Linked DNA regions of Homo sapiens: region 2 is linked to region 1. The links come from fine-mapping of genetic effects on plasma protein levels. A gene starts in region 1. The other region holds a variant in brackets. All regions are shown on one strand. Distances are from middle to middle.

The links. PIP is the chance, under the fine-mapping model, that this variant and not a neighbour inherited with it causes the effect. The UK Biobank Pharma Proteomics Project read protein levels with antibody pairs (Olink). The fine-mapping took linkage between variants from a reference panel, not from the people measured, so its PIPs are less certain.
Region 2: its variant is fine-mapped to the plasma level of the IL16 protein (UK Biobank, PIP above 0.99).

The regions. Positions count from the first base shown.
Region 1 is chr15:81,190,530-81,199,499 of GRCh38, forward strand. It overlaps IL16 (interleukin 16), which reads left to right and starts at 6,350. Exons shown (of 19, transcript NM_172217.5): 1 at 6,350-6,623. RefSeq lists an enhancer at 1-203.
Region 2 is chr15:81,298,561-81,307,752 of GRCh38, forward strand. It overlaps IL16 (interleukin 16), which reads left to right. Exons shown (of 19, transcript NM_172217.5): 14 at 820-1,915; 15 at 2,784-2,952; 16 at 4,989-5,090; 17 at 7,348-7,606; 18 at 7,860-7,985. Among named protein-coding and RNA genes, the nearest start is that of STARD5, 21 kb to the right of the region's middle. RefSeq lists enhancers at 131-180, 3,246-3,335, 4,677-5,876, 5,261-5,791. The variant G/A (reference allele first, on the strand shown) is at 4,457.

The DNA.
Region 1 (8,970 bases):
TCCTCCCTTTCTTATAAGAAAAAGGGGAAATCATTATGGTACCAACCCTCCAAGTGAATTGTGGAGCTGGATACTGTGTGGATGGTACTTAGCCTTGTGTCTAGCTGTTCCATGGTGAGCAGGCCTATGCAAACCTACCCCCAAAGGCTGAGGAAGTTGAGGGGCCAAAGAAAGAAGCTGAAAAATCCAGTTTCTTAGAAAGAAATGTTGAATAGGGACTTATGTCCAGAAGCCATGTCTGTGTCTAGGACGGCGAGACAAGATGGTGAATCCCCACAATTACACCCCAGACCCAGGGTTTATATATCATAGGAGAAGGGTACAGTGCTTCAGAAGGAATGGGTAGGGTGATTGCTCAAGGTCAGGATTTATGGTAAGTACAATAACATCAAGATTGTTTTGACCTAAGGGTAGGATAAGTACATGCTCTTATACAAGGAACAGTAGATAGACTAGAAACCTTACGAGACTTTCCTGGAACTGGAGTTAATCAGAATCCAACATGGGGGATTAGCACCCAAGATGGAGTTGCCTCAGCCTCCACACTGGCCCACAGCAAGTGCTGCACAAATGCTTGTTGTTGCTGTTATTAATCAGCCAAGGTTCTATATCTCTGAGTACTTTTTATTTGTTTTAGAGCCATGAATTAAACCAAGTGATTCTTCTTGTCATAACCGGAGGGTCATGAATGCTCTTGGAACTAAACTCTCTTCCCTTGGAGAGAACATTCTGTTTCCTAATCTGTGGCTTCTAGGAGCTAAGAGAGATACTGTGAATATGTTTTTTAAGTTCCATTTAAACCTGGGCCTAATCACATAAATTACGCTAAGGAAATGTCTGGAAGAGCTCTTTGTAAACTGAAAACTACAAACAAATGTAGAAACTCATTACATGGCATTAGTCATTTATTCATTCATTTATGCATTGATTCACTCAGTAAATGTTTATCAACCCTTTATGGGCCAGGCATGCTCTAGTGCTGGGGACCCCACAGTGAACAGGCTGATGAGGTCCCTGTGTGGGACCTAGATGGGGCGGATGGGTGGTATGTAAGTACCCAAGCAGACTAACAAGACAGCTTCAAATGCTGGCAAGTTCTATGAAGAAAATAAAATAAGGAGAGGTAACGGTGAGTGCCTGGTTTAGGTTGAGTGGTCAAGAAAGATCCCACTTAGGAGATGGAGTCAGGGAAGAGCCAGCCATATGAAGATCTGGAAGTGGAACTTTCCTGTAAGAGAAAACAGCTAGGGCAGAAGTCTTAGGGTGACAAGGGCATGGCTTATTCAAGAAAGAGCCAGAAGGCCAGGGTGGCTGTGGGATGCAGCGAGCAGGAGAGGCAGAGGTGGAAGCTGGAGTTTGGGAGATAAACAAGGGTGAGATCATTTAGCTCCTTTGGGACACTGTAAGGAATTTGGGTATTATTTTGGAAAACAACGCAAAGCCTTTGGAAGGGGTGGAGCACAGGGCATTTTTGGGGCAGTAAATATATCTCTCTGTCTGATACTACAGTGGTAGATCCATAACGCTATGCACTTGTCAGAACCCATAGAACTGCACAACACAATGGGTGAACCATCACGTAAGCCATGAACTTTAGCTAATAATCATGTATCAGTATTGATTTATCAATTGTAAAAAGGTACCACGCCAATGCAAGATGTTAATAGTATGGGAAATTGTGTGTGTGGAGAGGGAGATCAGTATTCGGGAGTTCTGTACTTTCTATGCAATATTTCTGTAAAGCTAAAACTGCTCAGAACAATAAAGTTTATTAAATTTTTAAAAAAGTGGTTGGGTGCAGTGGCTCATGCCTATAATCCCAGCACTTTGGGAGGCCAAGGAAGGAGGACTGCTTGAGGCCAGGAGTTCAAGACCAGCCTGGGCAACACAGAGAGACCGTGTCTCTACAAAAAAAAAGAAAAAAGAAAAAATAGCCAAATGTGGTGGCATGTGCTTGTTGTCCTAGCTACTCGGGAGGCTGAGGCTGGAGGATTGCTTGAGCCAGGAGTTTAAGGCTGCAGTTAGCTATGATCATACCACTACCCTGCAGCCTGGGCCACAGAGCAAGATGCTGTCTCAAAAACAAACAAACAAACAAAAAACAGTTTTTAAAAGTAATTCAAAGCCCTTGCAAATTTTATGCTGATCCAATTTATATTTTCAAAAAGCCTACCTGCTATTATGTGAAAAATGGATTATGAAGGTCTGCATAGGAACCAGAATCCCAGTTAGAAGGTGAAAGCTATAATCAGACAAGAGGCACTGGTAAGAGGAGGGTGGCGGCAGTGAAGATGGAGAGAAGCGGAAAGAAAGTGGGATAGCTTCTGGGGATAGAGCCAACGAGAATCACTGATAAATTGGATGTGATGTGGAAGGTTAGAGAGATGGAGGGATCAAGATGAATAAAAACTCACAGAGGGCTTATTCTGGCAGGCACTGTTCTAAGAACCTTACAAGTATTACCATATTTAGCCCAAACAAACCTTGTGAGGTGGATGTTAGTGCACTAGCCAGCCTATAGATGACAAAACCAGTCCACAGAGAAGTGCCTTTTTGCCTGCCTATGATCATGCACTTGGGCAGGGACAGACCTGCGAGATGAACCCAGGAATTTTGGCTTCAGAGCCTGTGCTATGTTCTTCCCACCTTGATACTGAGGATTTTGGCTTGGGAAATTGATGGATGCTAGTGACAATTACCAAAATGTGGAAGTTTAGGGAAGAAACATTTTATTAGGGGGGGAATCAAGAGTACTGTTGGCAGTGTTCCTTTTTTTTGCCTCACTGAATAACAGCCAGGCAATGTTACTTTTGAAATTTAAGTTAAACCCCAGCTGAAGATGTTAAGCAAGTGGTAGGAAAAAAGAGTCAGAATTCAAGGAGAAGTCCAGGCCTGGAGAAGTGAATTTGGGAGTTGTTGGCATGTGCGTGGTATATTTGCTTGTGGACTGGCTTCAGTTGCTTGTCGTGATTGTAAGTATCTTAGTGATGGAATATTACTTTGAAAGGATGCAAGCCTGATGGACAGTTTGAAAGAAAAAAAGGCCAGAGAGAGGGCAGCATGGTCTACATGGAAGTCAGCTAGAATTTTCGTATGAAGTTAAAACCCTTGGTTTGAATCTATATGTTGCTGTGGGCCAGGGAAAGAGGGGAAGAGAGCCGGGGAGCGGGAATCAAGGGACCAATGGCTTCTGACTGCACAGCCTTGGACGTGCACTTTTTGGACATGTAACTTCTCTGAGTCTCAGTGTTTGCATCCGTAAGTGGGGACGTACAATAAAATCATCAAGTTTTGGCCTCAACATTCTGTCTAAGTTGAAAGTGCTAAATGCAGAGAGAATTTATTATCATCATGTCCATTACTGTCAGGTTACATTACTAGTAACATTACATTACTAGTTAAAATTGTTACATTACTAGTTAAAATTGTTAAATTATATTCTGCGTCATGTTACATTACTAGTTAAAATTGTTACATTACTAGTTAAAATTGTTAAATTATATTCTGCTCATGATAATACAGTTCGCATGACCAAAAGTGTACAGCATAAAGAATTCCCAAGGCATTTTATAGATTGCAGGACAGCTCTTTGCTCAGACCTCTGAGCAGCCCTGTCAGATTATTGGGTTATTGTTTCCATTTTGTGGACATGGAAACTGAGACTCAGTAAGGTAAAAGGACTTGCAGTTGACAGAGCCGCTTAGTACAGAAGCTGGGGCTTATTGCTCTGACCCTAAGCTCTTTATTTTGCCATTGTTTGAACAGAATAGGAGATGACCCTGTTGTGTCATTTTAAGGACACACTTTCTTTTTGCCTTCTGAATATGTTTACTTGCCACAACAAACATGTATTACTTTTATAACTAAAATTTTGAAATTAAAAATTTTTGTAATTTTAATTTTTTAAATTAAATTTAAATTTGTAATTGTAATTTTAATTTTTAAAAATTAAATTAGAATTTTTAAAATTAAAATTTTTTAAATTAATTTTTCAAAATTTATAATTTTAATTTTGTAATTAAAATTTTTGTAATTAAAAATTTACTTTTGGAAATAAAATTTTGTAATTAAAAAATAGGAGAATTAGAAGGAAATACAGGTTATTGATTATGAAACTTTAGCAAGCATCAGAATCACTTGTTGAACAGATTTCTCAGTTCCGTGGGCTGGAAGGGCCAAAAAGGTGAGCAGGCTTCTGCTTGGTTAGCTGTTGGCAGCATGCTTCCTCCTCTATTGCCTCATTCTCTCAGTAACACTGTGCAGTAGAAGTTTCTAATTTCATCTGGCAGACAATTAATTTCATCTAATTTTCATCGTAGCAAACTAAGGCTGTGAATGACCAAGATCACACAGGAAGCTCTTGGTTGAGCTTCAAGTGGTGCTTGAACTTCCTAGTTCTAACCAGGGCGGGGCTCTCTCACCTGCGTCTTCCTCCCCGTCTCTTCTGGCTTGCAGTGAGCTGGACTATGGAGTGTTGGGCAGGGTGGAGACTCTTTCTGCAGGATGTCCTGAAGGGCAGAGGGGTGATAAAATTTCCACCTTGAAGCACAAACCACCCCGTATTAGGAAAAATCAGGGCCAAGTCTCAACTACACTTTGGAATAAATTTACCTTCTGAGAGTGAGAAAGAACAGATCTTCGGAAAATAGAGGGAGAGGCGGGAACTGGATTCAGGTGCCGATGACAAGAGAGAGCTTAGACTTAGTGGAGGAGGGGGGCTGTGGGGCCCTCCCAGGCCTCAGGATCCAAGAAGGGCAAGGCCAGCCCCCATAGCCCTGGGGTGCTGAATTGCTCCTCAGCCTCTCTGCCAGAGCAAGATGGAAGTGGGGCCTGAGTCTGTCCTGGCCCCACCGCACCCAGGCCATTGTGAGAGAGATTGTGGGTGTGAGCTGAGCAGGCGACACTGACAGAGGCGCTCACTCTCTGCAATTTAGAAATTCCTTCACTGCACTCCAGACTCACTCCAGACTCAGCCCTACAATGTCCCCTGTGCCTGCTGACAAAGGCAGCTTTATCCCCAGAGTGCTCCCTCCTCCCGTGCTTCCCTTGGGACCGTGGGCCTGTGTTCTCCAGCAGCAGCGGCTAGATCTTTGCAGCCTTGCATGGAATTTCAAGGGCTTCCTACAGGTTGCACCTACACCCTCATTAAAGCCCCCAGGAAGCCCTGAAACATTTGGTGCTGAGCGTTGGGAAACATTCCATTCTTTAGAAGAGAGGTCCATACAAAAACCTCAGCCTAGCATGTACACAGGGCTCACAGAGACTGAGCTTAGGAGAGATGTGTGGGATGCTCTTTGCGGGGCAGATGGATTAAATGCCACCTTATGATTAGATTCTCCAAGGGGCTACGTGGGGGAAAGGCACTCTGGTCTCATGACACTAATGCCAACAGGACACACACAAAAGTGCCCCATTCTTTTATGCTGCAGTTTTCAACATGCTCTGTATACGTTAGGTCATGGGCTCTCGCACCTGAGCACGCACCAAAATCACCTGGAGGCTTTGTGAAAACAGAGTGCCAGAGGTGCTGCTTCAGGAGGTCTAGGCCAGGGCCTGAGAACTTGCATTTCTAGCAGATGCTGCTGATGCAGCTGGCTTGAGGACCACTGAGTTACATAAGCTTCTGAGAGCCAGTCTGTTGTTTTTGGGAAAGGGTGGCACAGACAAGAAATGAAATGCTATGGAAAAAGCCTGGGCTTTGGAGACAGGTGGATTTTGACTTGCTAACTTGCTAACTGTGTGACCTTGGGGAAATTCCACGGCACGTAGTAGGTGTTTAATGAACGTTTGTGCAGTGGCTTTCTTTGTCTGCAAAGCAGGTGATATATTTACCAGATTGATGGCAGGATTGTATGTGATGACTTTTTTCCTCTTTTTATTAAATTTTTATATAATTTGAGAGGAGTTCTTGCTATGGTTTGCCCGGGCTTGTCTTGAATCCCCCGGCTCAAGTGATCCTTCTGCCTCAGCCTCCTGAGTAGCTGGGATTATAGGCACGTGCCACAGCTTCCAGCATGTGATGAGGTTTATAGAAAGCTCCTAGCAGCGTGCCAGGCACATTGCAGGCACCGAGTCATGTCTGCTACCTTTCGGCTCTCCTAGTCATTTCTGTGTTGTCCAAAGAAGGCAGGGGCAACTGGGCTGGACCAAGGAACCTCACTGTGGTTCTGTGGCTCTGCACTGGGTTTGCCTCCTGGGTGTTGCCGGCCAGCCCAGCAGATGGTGGACCTTGTTCTGAGGCTGAGCTTCTCAGCACTGGCAGCCCCCCTTTTTGGATCAAGCCTTTTCACGTGGAGCAGTCAGATGGCTCAGATCAGGAGTCTTCGAGCAAATCCATGCCAGGTGGGACACATTTGTCCTGAGTCACCTGTCCAGAGCAGGTGGTGAATATTGTGTCCTACTCACGGCATCTCAACTATCGGAGCCTGGGATCTGACTCAAAGGCCGGCCTCCGTCTGAGAACTGAGCGTCCATTTCTCAATCCTTGCCGGCTCTGACCCAGGCCTGGGCCACAGGCTGTCCGGGAATAAGTGGTGCTGCAATCCCTGCTGGGCAGATGGAGAGAGGAGCAAGGGAGATGGCAGCCCCGGGGGACTGTGCATAGGGAGGTAGGTGGGCACCAGGTGAGTGAATGTCTGTCAGGCAGCTGCTCTGTCCAGGTGGCCGTTACCGGAGGGAGGAAGCTGGCCTCTCTGACCTGAATGGGGAGGGTCTTGGTTGCTAGGACGTAACTTCATATTTGGAAGTGGTGCTGGGGTCAGGGGCAGGAGCAGAAGCCAGGATTGTGTTGGTAGGAATCTCTGTGTCACCATGTCACAGTTAGGTACAGGAGGAAGCAGCTTCAGAAGGCCAGAGCGGGCAGAGGGATATCGCTTGACCTGGCTCTGCAGCACGGGGAGAATTTGGTCCTGAGATTTCTGACTTTTCAGCCTCGTCTCATCCTTGGCAATGGGGTGTGGAAGGAGGTGGAGGAAAGGAAGGCAGCAGGAGAGAGAAAGGCCACGGGGCACCTGATGGGGGCTTCTCTGCTGCCTGGCCAGACTCCTTTTCTCCAAAGTGGGCACAGCGGGTGGGCATCTCTGCAGATTGACCATGGGAAAAGTGTTCACTCTGCTTGCTTTTTGATAAGGGTCCCGTGACTAATTCCTGCATTGGTAGGTCCCAGGATTGGTGTTTTTTTGTTTTTGTTTTTTGTTTGTTTGTTTTTTTCTTTTTTGGTCCATAGCAAGTTTGCTTTCTGTAGCTGGAGAATGAGGTAACAGCATAAGAATAGAGGTTCCCTGTGGAATACAGGGAAGCATCTTCTCCTCCTGCCCTTATCAGGTGAAATCCTCCCACTTCAGGCTGAGCCATACAAAGACGACCCCTTTGTCCCAGGAGGCCAGTTCAAGCTCCCACTGGGTTCCTGGAAGCAGCCTGGGAGCTGCCGTCTCTGTGGCTCCCCTTCCTATTTCTCCAGTTTCCCCCGGAAGGAGAAGACCGTTCAGCCTTTTTCCTCCTCTGTTCTCCTTCTTTACCCTGAAGTTAAGTGATGGTCAACATTTACGAGCACAGTAGAAGGCACCTCCCCTGCTGCAGATATGACGTGGGCATGAGCCGTCAGGTGGGTCAGACCCTTGAAGCCTCTACTGCTCATTTATTCAATCCCCAGTGAGTCTTTTAAATAAAACTTAGTACCCCAACCATTTCCTGGCCACTCTTCAAGCCCCAGGCACCAAGCTAAAATATTCACATACCTCATTTAATTTAAACCTTACAACAACCTGGAGCTTAGGGAGTATATCCCCAAACCGAGAGGTGAGGAGGCTTGCACAGGACCACTCAGCTAGACGTTCCCAGGACCCAAACCCAGCTTGACTCCAAAATCCATGCTCTCACTGGCTTTGTGGCATGCCTCAATAAATACTTGAGTTTCCTCAACACAAAGATGGTCATATATCCATAGGGTTAAAAAATAATCTCTGTTGGATGCAATTGACTATAGAATTATTATTTTCTAATTGTTTGTATTCATGGAAACCTTTTTAGAATTAAAATCTATCATGAAAACTCATGTATAATCAGTTAAGGCAGAATTATTTTGGCAGAGGCAGACCAGGACCTTGAGACCTGCCCTTTTGTCAACCCCTCCCCCTTTCTGGTTCCCAGCAGTGGCCCAGGGGTATAGGAGTGAGAGGGAGGGAGGTACACTTTGAATTGAAATCTACTGGCCAGGTACAGTGGCTCACGCCTGTAATCCCAGCAATTTGAGAGGCCGAGGCGGGCGGATCACTTGAGGTCAGGAGTTCCTGACCAGGCTGGCCAACATGGTGAAACCCTGTTTCTACTAAAAATACAAAAATTAGCCAGGCGTGGAGGCACATGCCTGTAATCCCAGCTACTCAAGAGGCTGAGGCAGGAGAATTGCTTGAACCCGGGAGGCGGAGACTGCAGTGAGCCGAGATCATGCCACTGCACTCCAGCCTGGGTGACAGAGGGAGACTCCATCTCAAAAAAAAAAAATATATATATATATATATATATATATATATAAAATACATATTTTTTATTGTGCATTTGAATTGGTAATACATTTTCATATATAGGTTACGTTTTGCTATTAAAAAGCAATTCATTGTGAATAGCAATATGCTCATAAACACGGGGAGAAAATAGGCATGGGGCAAAATAAACAAATAGTTCCAAGAACTTGGAGTTGTGGTTAACTAGGAAGGCAGCTTGAAATCAGGAATTTACTTCAAGTTCTTCTTTTGAATTCCTGTTGAAATAAGGACGAATCTATGTCAGTCTTGTAAACTAGACAGTGTTGCTCAGTGTGTGCCAGAAACACTGAGAAGTCTCAGTGGATGTCTCAGGTGGATGTGAAGGACGTTGGGTGGAAGGGCGGAGCCCATCAGGAGGGAGGCGCTGTTCTTGCCACATCTGGAGATGCTGGAGGAGAGGTTTGCTTTGAGTGGGAGCAACTGGTAA
Region 2 (9,192 bases), 110 kb after region 1:
CAGGTATCTTCAGTCAGTACCTAGGGGTGGGCGTCAGTATTTTTCAGGGCCCTCCAGATTCCAGTATGTAGCCAAGGTGGAGAATCCTACTTCACAGATTCCTTTCTACCTGGAACCTTTTCATCAGCTTTTGAGGGAGGGAAAACACTCCTTTGCCGAGAGCAAGCTGATCAATGACCTGTGTATAGGCAGAGCAGCAAACACACGGCTTCAGGGCCAGGCAGGTACATACATGGGAAATGCTGGCTGGGTGAGAGGGAGCGTGAAGAGCTGTGGGAAGCCGAAGTGGCCCCATCAGAAGCTGTGCACAGGCACCTTGTTTTTAATGACACGGGTAGGTCAAAGCACAAACAGCTGCCAACTCATGACCTTTGTCTTAAAAGTTTAAACGGCAGGAGAACTGCTTTGGCTTTTACACATTTAACATGGTATCTTGGAGGCTCCTTAGTGCAGTAGAAAGGACATGAACTTCAAGAGTCAGGAGACACAGGGTCTTGCCTGAGCACTGCCATCAGATGGCCCCTTACCCTTCTTGAAATGTAATATGCCAGAGGTCGGCCCAGATATTCTCTGAGCACCCTTCCAGGCCTAAAACACTAGGATACTGTGAGATTAACTCCTACTTCTGGTCCTTCACTCCTGCCTGTTGGCAGCTCAGTCAGGTAATAGCACCTGGAGTTCACCCACCTGGGTGTCCCCCACTTCTGCTAATCTCCTCCTCTTGAATCCTTCTTGCTGTTCAGCTTGGAAACTAGAATTTAGGAAGAAAAGTCACTGTATGATGTAATGCACAGCTTTGGCCTTGTTTCTGCACTGTAGTGACCCAAACATCCCCGATAAAACACCCACTGCTTAAGAGGCAGGCTCGGATGGACTATAGCTTTGATACCACAGCCGAAGACCCTTGGGTTAGGATTTCTGACTGCATCAAAAACTTATTTAGCCCCATCATGAGTGAGAACCATGGCCACATGCCTCTACAGCCCAATGCCAGCCTGAATGAAGAAGAAGGGACACAGGGCCACCCAGATGGGACCCCACCAAAGCTGGACACCGCCAATGGCACTCCCAAAGTTTACAAGTCAGCAGACAGCAGCACTGTGAAGAAAGGTCCTCCTGTGGCTCCCAAGCCAGCCTGGTTTCGCCAAAGCTTGAAAGGTTTGAGGAATCGTGCTTCAGACCCAAGAGGGCTCCCTGATCCTGCCTTGTCCACCCAGCCAGCACCTGCTTCCAGGGAGCACCTAGGATCACACATCCGGGCCTCCTCCTCCTCCTCCTCCATCAGGCAGAGAATCAGCTCCTTTGAAACCTTTGGCTCCTCTCAACTGCCTGACAAAGGAGCCCAGAGACTGAGCCTCCAGCCCTCCTCTGGGGAGGCAGCAAAACCTCTTGGGAAGCATGAGGAAGGACGGTTTTCTGGACTCTTGGGGCGAGGGGCTGCACCCACTCTTGTGCCCCAGCAGCCTGAGCAAGTACTGTCCTCGGGGTCCCCTGCAGCCTCCGAGGCCAGAGACCCAGGTGTGTCTGAGTCCCCTCCCCCAGGGCGGCAGCCCAATCAGAAAACTCTCCCCCCTGGCCCGGACCCGCTCCTAAGGCTGCTGTCAACACAGGCTGAGGAATCTCAAGGCCCAGTGCTCAAGATGCCTAGCCAGCGAGCACGGAGCTTCCCCCTGACCAGGTCCCAGTCCTGTGAGACGAAGCTACTTGACGAAAAGACCAGCAAACTCTATTCTATCAGCAGCCAAGTGTCATCGGCTGTCATGAAATCCTTGCTGTGCCTTCCATCTTCTATCTCCTGTGCCCAGACTCCCTGCATCCCCAAGGAAGGGGCATCTCCAACATCATCATCCAACGAAGACTCAGCTGCAAATGGTTCTGCTGAAACATCTGCCTTGGACACAGGGTTCTCGCTCAAGTGAGTTTCTACACCCGGTGTTTCTCTTTACCTTTCTCATCTTTTTCTTTCTCATCTTTATTTTTAAAAATAATCCTATATATAATTTAAAAAATTCCCAGATATATTGATTAAAGAATTGTTCTGCCTCTTTCTTTCCATGTGTGTGCAGATGTCTGAGTGTGTGTGTGTCTGTCTGTAGGTATTACACCTCTGCCTTTCACATTAAGGAGGAGTTTTCACAACATCTGGCTTCAGGAGGGCTGGGAGGTAGGAGGTGGGACTGGCTCCCTGGTGAATTGCTCATGAGGGCTGACATACGCCTGTGGAGATTTGGAAGGTTGATGCACATCTGAAATGTCCTGCGGTTACTCAGAAAGACCAGAATGAGGCCAGGAAATTATCCATCAGGAATTCTTACTCTCCAAATGGAATCCACTTGTACTCTGCACGTGGGTTCAACTCCCTCGTCAGGGAGTTAGGATGTCTGGGTCCTAGTCTCAGCTTAGGCACTGATTCTGACTATGAGCAGGTTCTTTCCATGCTCACCCTCAGATTCCTTGTCAGTTGAAATTAGGAGATGGATGAGACCTTCTATGCAGAACCAAGAGGATGTCAGACGTGCCATAGGGTCCCTGCTGTAGGGCTGGGGCTTGGTCTTCCCTCTGATCAAAGTAGCTCTGCATTTATTAGTTTTATTTATTATTCTTACACTGCTGGGAAATATCTGTAGAGTGAAGGTATGCTAGTATCTACTCATAGATTTGTTGCATCAAATAATATGCACATAAGTGCTTGGCACCACACCTGGGACATAGTAATTATACAATCACTGTTACCTCTTTTTAATATTGTTGTTCATACTGTGTGTTGTTTCTCCTTATGAAAGCCTTTCAGAGCTGAGAGAATATACAGAGGGTCTCACGGAAGCCAAGGAAGACGATGATGGGGACCACAGTTCCCTTCAGTCTGGTCAGTCCGTTATCTCCCTGCTGAGCTCAGAAGAATTAAAAAAACTCATCGAGGAGGTGAAGGTTCTGGATGAAGCAACATTAAAGGTAGGTTTCCTTTGTAAGCATCTGCAGTAACCAATGGCTTATTATGGCTGTGTGGCCACCTTAGTTGGGCCAGAGGGGAAGTAGCTTGAGTAGCCTGCTCACATCAGACCCAGGTTGCGTCCTGTGATGGTGGGACACTGTAGCACTTGACCACAGTAAGACCTTCCATTTGAAGAGAGCCTTTTAGCTTGTGAACCACTTTCAGTAGATTGACTTCTTGCATCTTCTTTTGTCATTTTATAAATGAGAAAGGTAAGGCTCAATCAAGGTTACAGAACCTGGGTTTTCTGTCTCCAAGTTCAAGTTCAGTGCTGTTTCCACATTCCATGTGCTGCTGTCCTGGCATGTGTCTGTTGTGGGATGCTGTCCATTGTAAACAATGTGGGTTACAAGAGCTCTCACCTGGAGCTTTCATTATTTCCACTGTGCATGGAGAGGTGGCTGATCCCAGGGCTCACAAGTCCCCCACGCTTCAGTCAAGTCATTCTGAAAGTCTCACTTCCCATATGTTTTCTGAGCATGACCCAAAGGGGTGTGGGGAGGAAGTGGCCAGGCTGAGCTGGGGCCAGCAGTCAAATGAGCTCAGGCTCATGGGTCCTGCACCCTCTAGGTGCTGCCCCAGGCCTCCGTAGGCTTTTGGCACTAGAATGATCCAGGCTAGGATGAGAGGATAAGGAGGTTCTCGTTTTCCATACAAGGAGGCCTCATAGCTGCAATTTCCACATCAAGAGTGTAGGTGAGTCTGATGAGCCCAAGGTGCTGCTGTGCTGAGATTCTTTCGCTGTGGCTTTCACTTGTCACCTGGGACCATCATCCCCCAGGATCTTACTCAGTGCAAATGAAATAACAGAGGCAGAGCGTGTAAAACACAAAGAGCCATCCTGCCTGAGCTGCTCTGGGGAGAGTATTTGCTTTCTAACATGAGAAGAGCCTTCTACAAGGCAAGTAACCTGATACTTGGGTAAAAGTTGAGAGAGTTGGGCTAGTGTTGGGGCTTGGAGGTGAGGGTGCAGTGAGGTACATTCATCCTTCCATGCCTTTGGGTCTTAGGGGCTCCAAGTCTTAGGATCATAGGGACAGCTGCAAGTCAGGTGCTCTAGTGACGCTGAGCAAGTGAATTCTTTGACATAAGTTTACTCCTTAGTGCCAAGGTACAAACAGGTGCCCCAAGAACCTGTAGGTGTACTTTATTTGGTCTGCATGGTGATGAAAAAAATATTGAATTCTATACATGATAAAACCTGAATTGAAACCTGGACTTTAGGGAAGTGATCTGGTAGCGCTAGTTCTGTATGCCTACGTAGAGCTGACCCTTTGAGCAGATGTACTCGTTGGCGCTCTGCAGTTCCTATCACACATCTGCCCATTTGGCTCATTTTAGGGACCTGCCTGACTCCTATAGGCATCTGAGTTTGAGACCCCTGCTCTAGACTGGAATAGGAGTCTCTGACTGTGTCCTGGCTCCATGGGAGTCCCCGTCTAGGCTAGGAAGTACCGTAGTAAT[G/A]TGTGTGTGTGTGTGTGTGTGTGTGTGTCACACTTGCACACTGTGCATTGGGGCAGGATGTTAGCTGGGCTTCCTTAGTGCTGCTGCTGTGACCCATGGAGAAGTAGAAGGGAAGAAGGAGCAACCAATTCCTGCAGAACAGCACTGACCCCTGTTTTGTTTTTTGTTGTTTTTTTTTTTTGTTTTGTTTTACCTGAAGTCCTACAACCTGACTTCATCTCACACTGTCCAATATGCTGATTTCTGGCTGACTTCATGGCACTCCCCCTGCCCGGCTGTGGACAGGGTGAATGAGAGAGGAAAATAATTATGCTTGCTGCTTTACATACATTTTTTTTTTCTTCTAAGCTTCCCATGACTCCTGAAGGTCCATTCTTTACAGATGAGGAAACTGAGGTTTGAGGAGGTGATGTAACTTGGAGGCTGGCCAAGCTGGGGTTTGAGATAACAAATCAGTCTGATGTCAGTCCGATGTTAAATTGTTCATCCTCTTGCAGTAAAATGTTTTTGAATGTATGTATTTCCTCTGCAGCAATTAGACGGCATCCATGTCACCATCTTACACAAGGAGGAAGGTGCTGGTCTTGGGTTCAGCTTGGCAGGAGGAGCAGATCTAGAAAACAAGGTGATTACGGTGAGTGGCCAAGTGAAGGGGCATGTCACAGCCAGAGGCAATGGTTCTGGGGGAGGGGGACACACTTGCCAGGAAGGGGCCCTGTGCTGGGGAAATGAAGAATGCATGACACTAGGCCACTGGGCAGGTCCTGTCCACTCAGCACATCCCAGAGCCTGGGGCTGCGTGGAGAGGGTAGCAGGCCTGGCCATGGGCATCTTTTCCTGTGGGTCCCACTATTCTGGCTCATCCAATCTGATCAGCATTGGCTGCTGCCTTCAGGTCACCTGTACCTGACCCAGATGGTTTCTGGTTCTGCCAGTTTTGTGGAGCCATGCTGCGGCTGCTCGCTCTCTAAAGCCGAGTGCATTGCTGTCATCCCAGGGCTGTGTTGTCTCAGGGTATCCTTTGTGTAGGCTGTGCTGGGCTCATTTGAATTTCCATGCCCAACTGAAAACAAATCCTCCAGTTCACAGCATCAGCCAGCATTCAACATACCACACCCCCTTGCAGTGGCAATCTGGCATGTTCCTGCGTGTCACTTCAGAGTCAATCATGTCAGTGGTGACTTCCTTGATTTCCTGATAAGTTTTCTATCACATAAAAAACACTTAAAACCTGTAAGTCTCTATTTCTCTCACTGAGTGCAGCTGAGTATTACAAAAAGATTCCTGACCGTGTAGTTTACTTTCTACTTGAAGAGGAGGAAAGAGAGCTTGCCTGTGGGAATGGCACTTTGGGTATTTTTCTCTGTCCATGAGTAGCAACTTCTGTCCACGTCATCTGGCCAGTCACCCTTGAGACACTGCAGACAACAGGAAACTAGGAGGAAGGCGCACATGTTGGCTGAGCACATGCACAAAAGCTTCTTTCTCCTTCTGTGTTTGAGCATTTCTCTTCCTTTCCAGATGATTAAAAGGGAACTAACGTAGAGCACCATCCACGGCCATGCTGAGCACTCACTGACCTGTTGTCTAAATTCATCCTACCCACACTTTGGATTGATAAATTGGTGGCATTTATGCTTCTTTTATAGAGGAGGAACCTGAGGTTCCTCCTTTAATTAACTTTAATCTTCGTTGGCCTAAAAATCCTCTAGCATTGAGGAACCTGAGGCTCAGAGGAGAGGTTCTGCTTCATGCTTGGATGTTACAGCCTGGGGATTCTAACCATGTAACAGAATTTTTCTAACACCAAAACAATTTAGAGAAGCAAAGAGCTTTGCTCCTATCATAAAAGCAAAACTACAGGTACCACATTTTAGTGGTTTCCATGCATGCTATCACTCAGTCCTCTTAATTATAATGGACCTCATTAAAGAGGCTGAGGCAGAGACATGAGATATTTTTGTGTGTTTGTTTATCCCACATATCTTGCAGAAAGGGGACCAAGAGGTGACTGGAGGTAAAGAGTCAGAATTTCTAGGGGAGGAGCTATAAAAATGTCTAGACTGCCTAGGAGAGTGTTTCTCAAAATGCATTCTGCCAAATGAGACCGAGAATTTCTCTATGAGAAAAGAATTCTTTGTTGAAACACTTTGGGAATCCCCATAATACCCTGCCAATACTTAGAAATCTGCCATGCAGATTTGCATTGTAGACCCTCTAAATGCCTTTTGCTTAGAAATCTGCTGCCATGCAAATTTGCATTGTAGACCCTCTAATGCCTTTTGCTTTTTAAAAGTAGACAATGTCAGAGCTTTTGTTTCACCCAGTATTCCTCAAGTTTCTTTGATTTTAAAAAATTTTTCTTGGCCGGGTGTGGTGGCTCATACCTGTAATTCCAACACTGTGCGGGGCCAAGGTGAGAGGATTGCTTGAGCCCAGGAGTTTGAGACCATCCTGGGCAACACTGGGAGACCCTGTCTCTATTTTTTAAAAAATAATAGGAAAAGCCTTTTTCTTACACAATACCCGTTAATATGCCATAGAATCAGTGCCTTGAGAAAACTACTCTGGGGACTTCTGACCTAGGGCAGGTGAAGCAAAAGATTTTATATGGAATCCCAACTAGAATCGTGGTGGTACACTATAGGACGTTGTGTTGGGATGGATTCTGAGGGCTTACCTGGTCATTACTGCTGGTGATCTCTGCTCTGGATGGAGAAGGAGGGAATGCTGGCCTCTGTGCCAGCAGCTCCAATCTAGGACACAATTATCTTTAATCTTTGTTGGCCTAAAAATCCTCTAGCATTGACTAACCGGTTCAATCCTCCTCCAGCAAGTATGTGGACTGGACTTGTGTGATTTCTGGTCCTGACTTCCTTTGGTTTGCTCAGGTTCACAGAGTGTTTCCAAATGGGCTGGCCTCCCAGGAAGGGACTATTCAGAAGGGCAATGAGGTTCTTTCCATCAACGGCAAGTCTCTCAAGGGGACCACGCACCATGATGCCTTGGCCATCCTCCGCCAAGCTCGAGAGCCCAGGCAAGCTGTGATTGTCACAAGGAAGCTGACTCCAGAGGCCATGCCCGACCTCAACTCCTCCACTGACTCTGCAGCCTCAGCCTCTGCAGCCAGTGATGTTTCTGTAGAATCTAGTAAGTTCTCCCAACTCAGTGGAAGCCACATGGGCCACATCCTCTTTGGCCATTTGGGGCCAGACCTGATGGGGCTACTCAGTAATTTGTGACCCCAAGAATGTGTGGCTGCCTAGTACACTGCCTGAGACGTGTTTACATGTGCCTGTGTGCAAACACGGGGGCTGTATCACCCCGGGCTCACTTGAAGCCCAGGGCATCTGTGGCCTGGGAGAGGAGAGGATCCCTAACAGAGACCTTGTGTTTTTCTCAGCAGCAGAGGCCACAGTCTGCACGGTGACACTGGAGAAGATGTCGGCAGGGCTGGGCTTCAGCCTGGAAGGAGGGAAGGGCTCCCTACACGGAGACAAGCCTCTCACCATTAACAGGATTTTCAAAGGTGTGGGGTGTGTCTGGTTCTTTGCGTGCTCTCCAGTTGTGGGCATGTGGCCAGGCCCCCAAAAGGCTTCTGGGCACTTTCTGGGCTATGTTGTTTCCCACAACTCCATGTCCTCTTCATAGGCATGCTGGTCCTTTTAGGGCTCAATTCTGCTTTTTCTACTTTTTCTCCTTTGCTCAGACATCCCCTCAATCCCCCCTCTGTTTTGATGGGTCTTCAAAAATACCTAAGTCCTGGGCTTGGTTCGGGTTGGCAGGGCCAGGACTCTAGAGTGGGGCAGTGAGGCACTGGCCTGTGGGGCAGAATTTTAAAGGGGTGCCAAAACACTCAGTAACTCAGATCGATACTATTTTAATGCAGCGTGTTTTTTAAAATTAATTTTAAAAAAACATGTTGGACAAAATATCCAAGTTTAAATCAAGACAGAGTCTGACTTTGTACTGCACACTTGGCCTCATTTGCCTTACCCTAGTCCTGGACACGTCAGCTCCTGCCTTTATTTAAAATGTTGATAGATATTTTGTTCATCAGGGATTGGAGTACAAACCAGTCTGATATGGGGGTCACTTGGATTTCCCTGTGAAAATCATGAATGACTGTGGCTACCATGTAAAACCATCCCTGATTCTTTGGTGTTCCTCAAATTGGAGGTCTCCAAGCCACAGAGCAAGGGGTTGTAGAGAGAGGAGTACTGGACAGGGAGGCAGGTGGGCCAGGTTCTAGTCCCAGCTCTGCCTGTAATGTGCTGAGTGACCCTTCCCTTCTGGGCCTGAGGCTCTTCATCCATAAAAGGAGGTAAAGAGGTACAGGTGTGTGTCTGAGGGCTCTTAGGACTGAGACCCAAAGGGACTCTTAGCTCTGTCCCTCACCCACTATGAGCTCCTGCTGCTGACTGGTTTCGTTAGAGGAAGTTCTGCTGCGGCTGCAGAAACCCAGAAGGTAGAGTGAGGCTTACATGGCATTCCCCCCAGAATCCATGTTAACCCCAATTCTGGGAAAGATATTTCTAATTTTTGAAGGTCAATTTGGAAGGAGCATTGGGTTCAATGTCAAGAGGACTAGATTCCAGTGTTAGTTCTGCCACATGACCTTGGTAGCATGATCTTGGACAAGTCACTTCACCACCATGGGCCCATTTGCTTAAATGTTTAGGATGAGACTGCCAGCTGCAGGGTGATGTTGGAAGGAGAGATGCAGATTCTGGAGC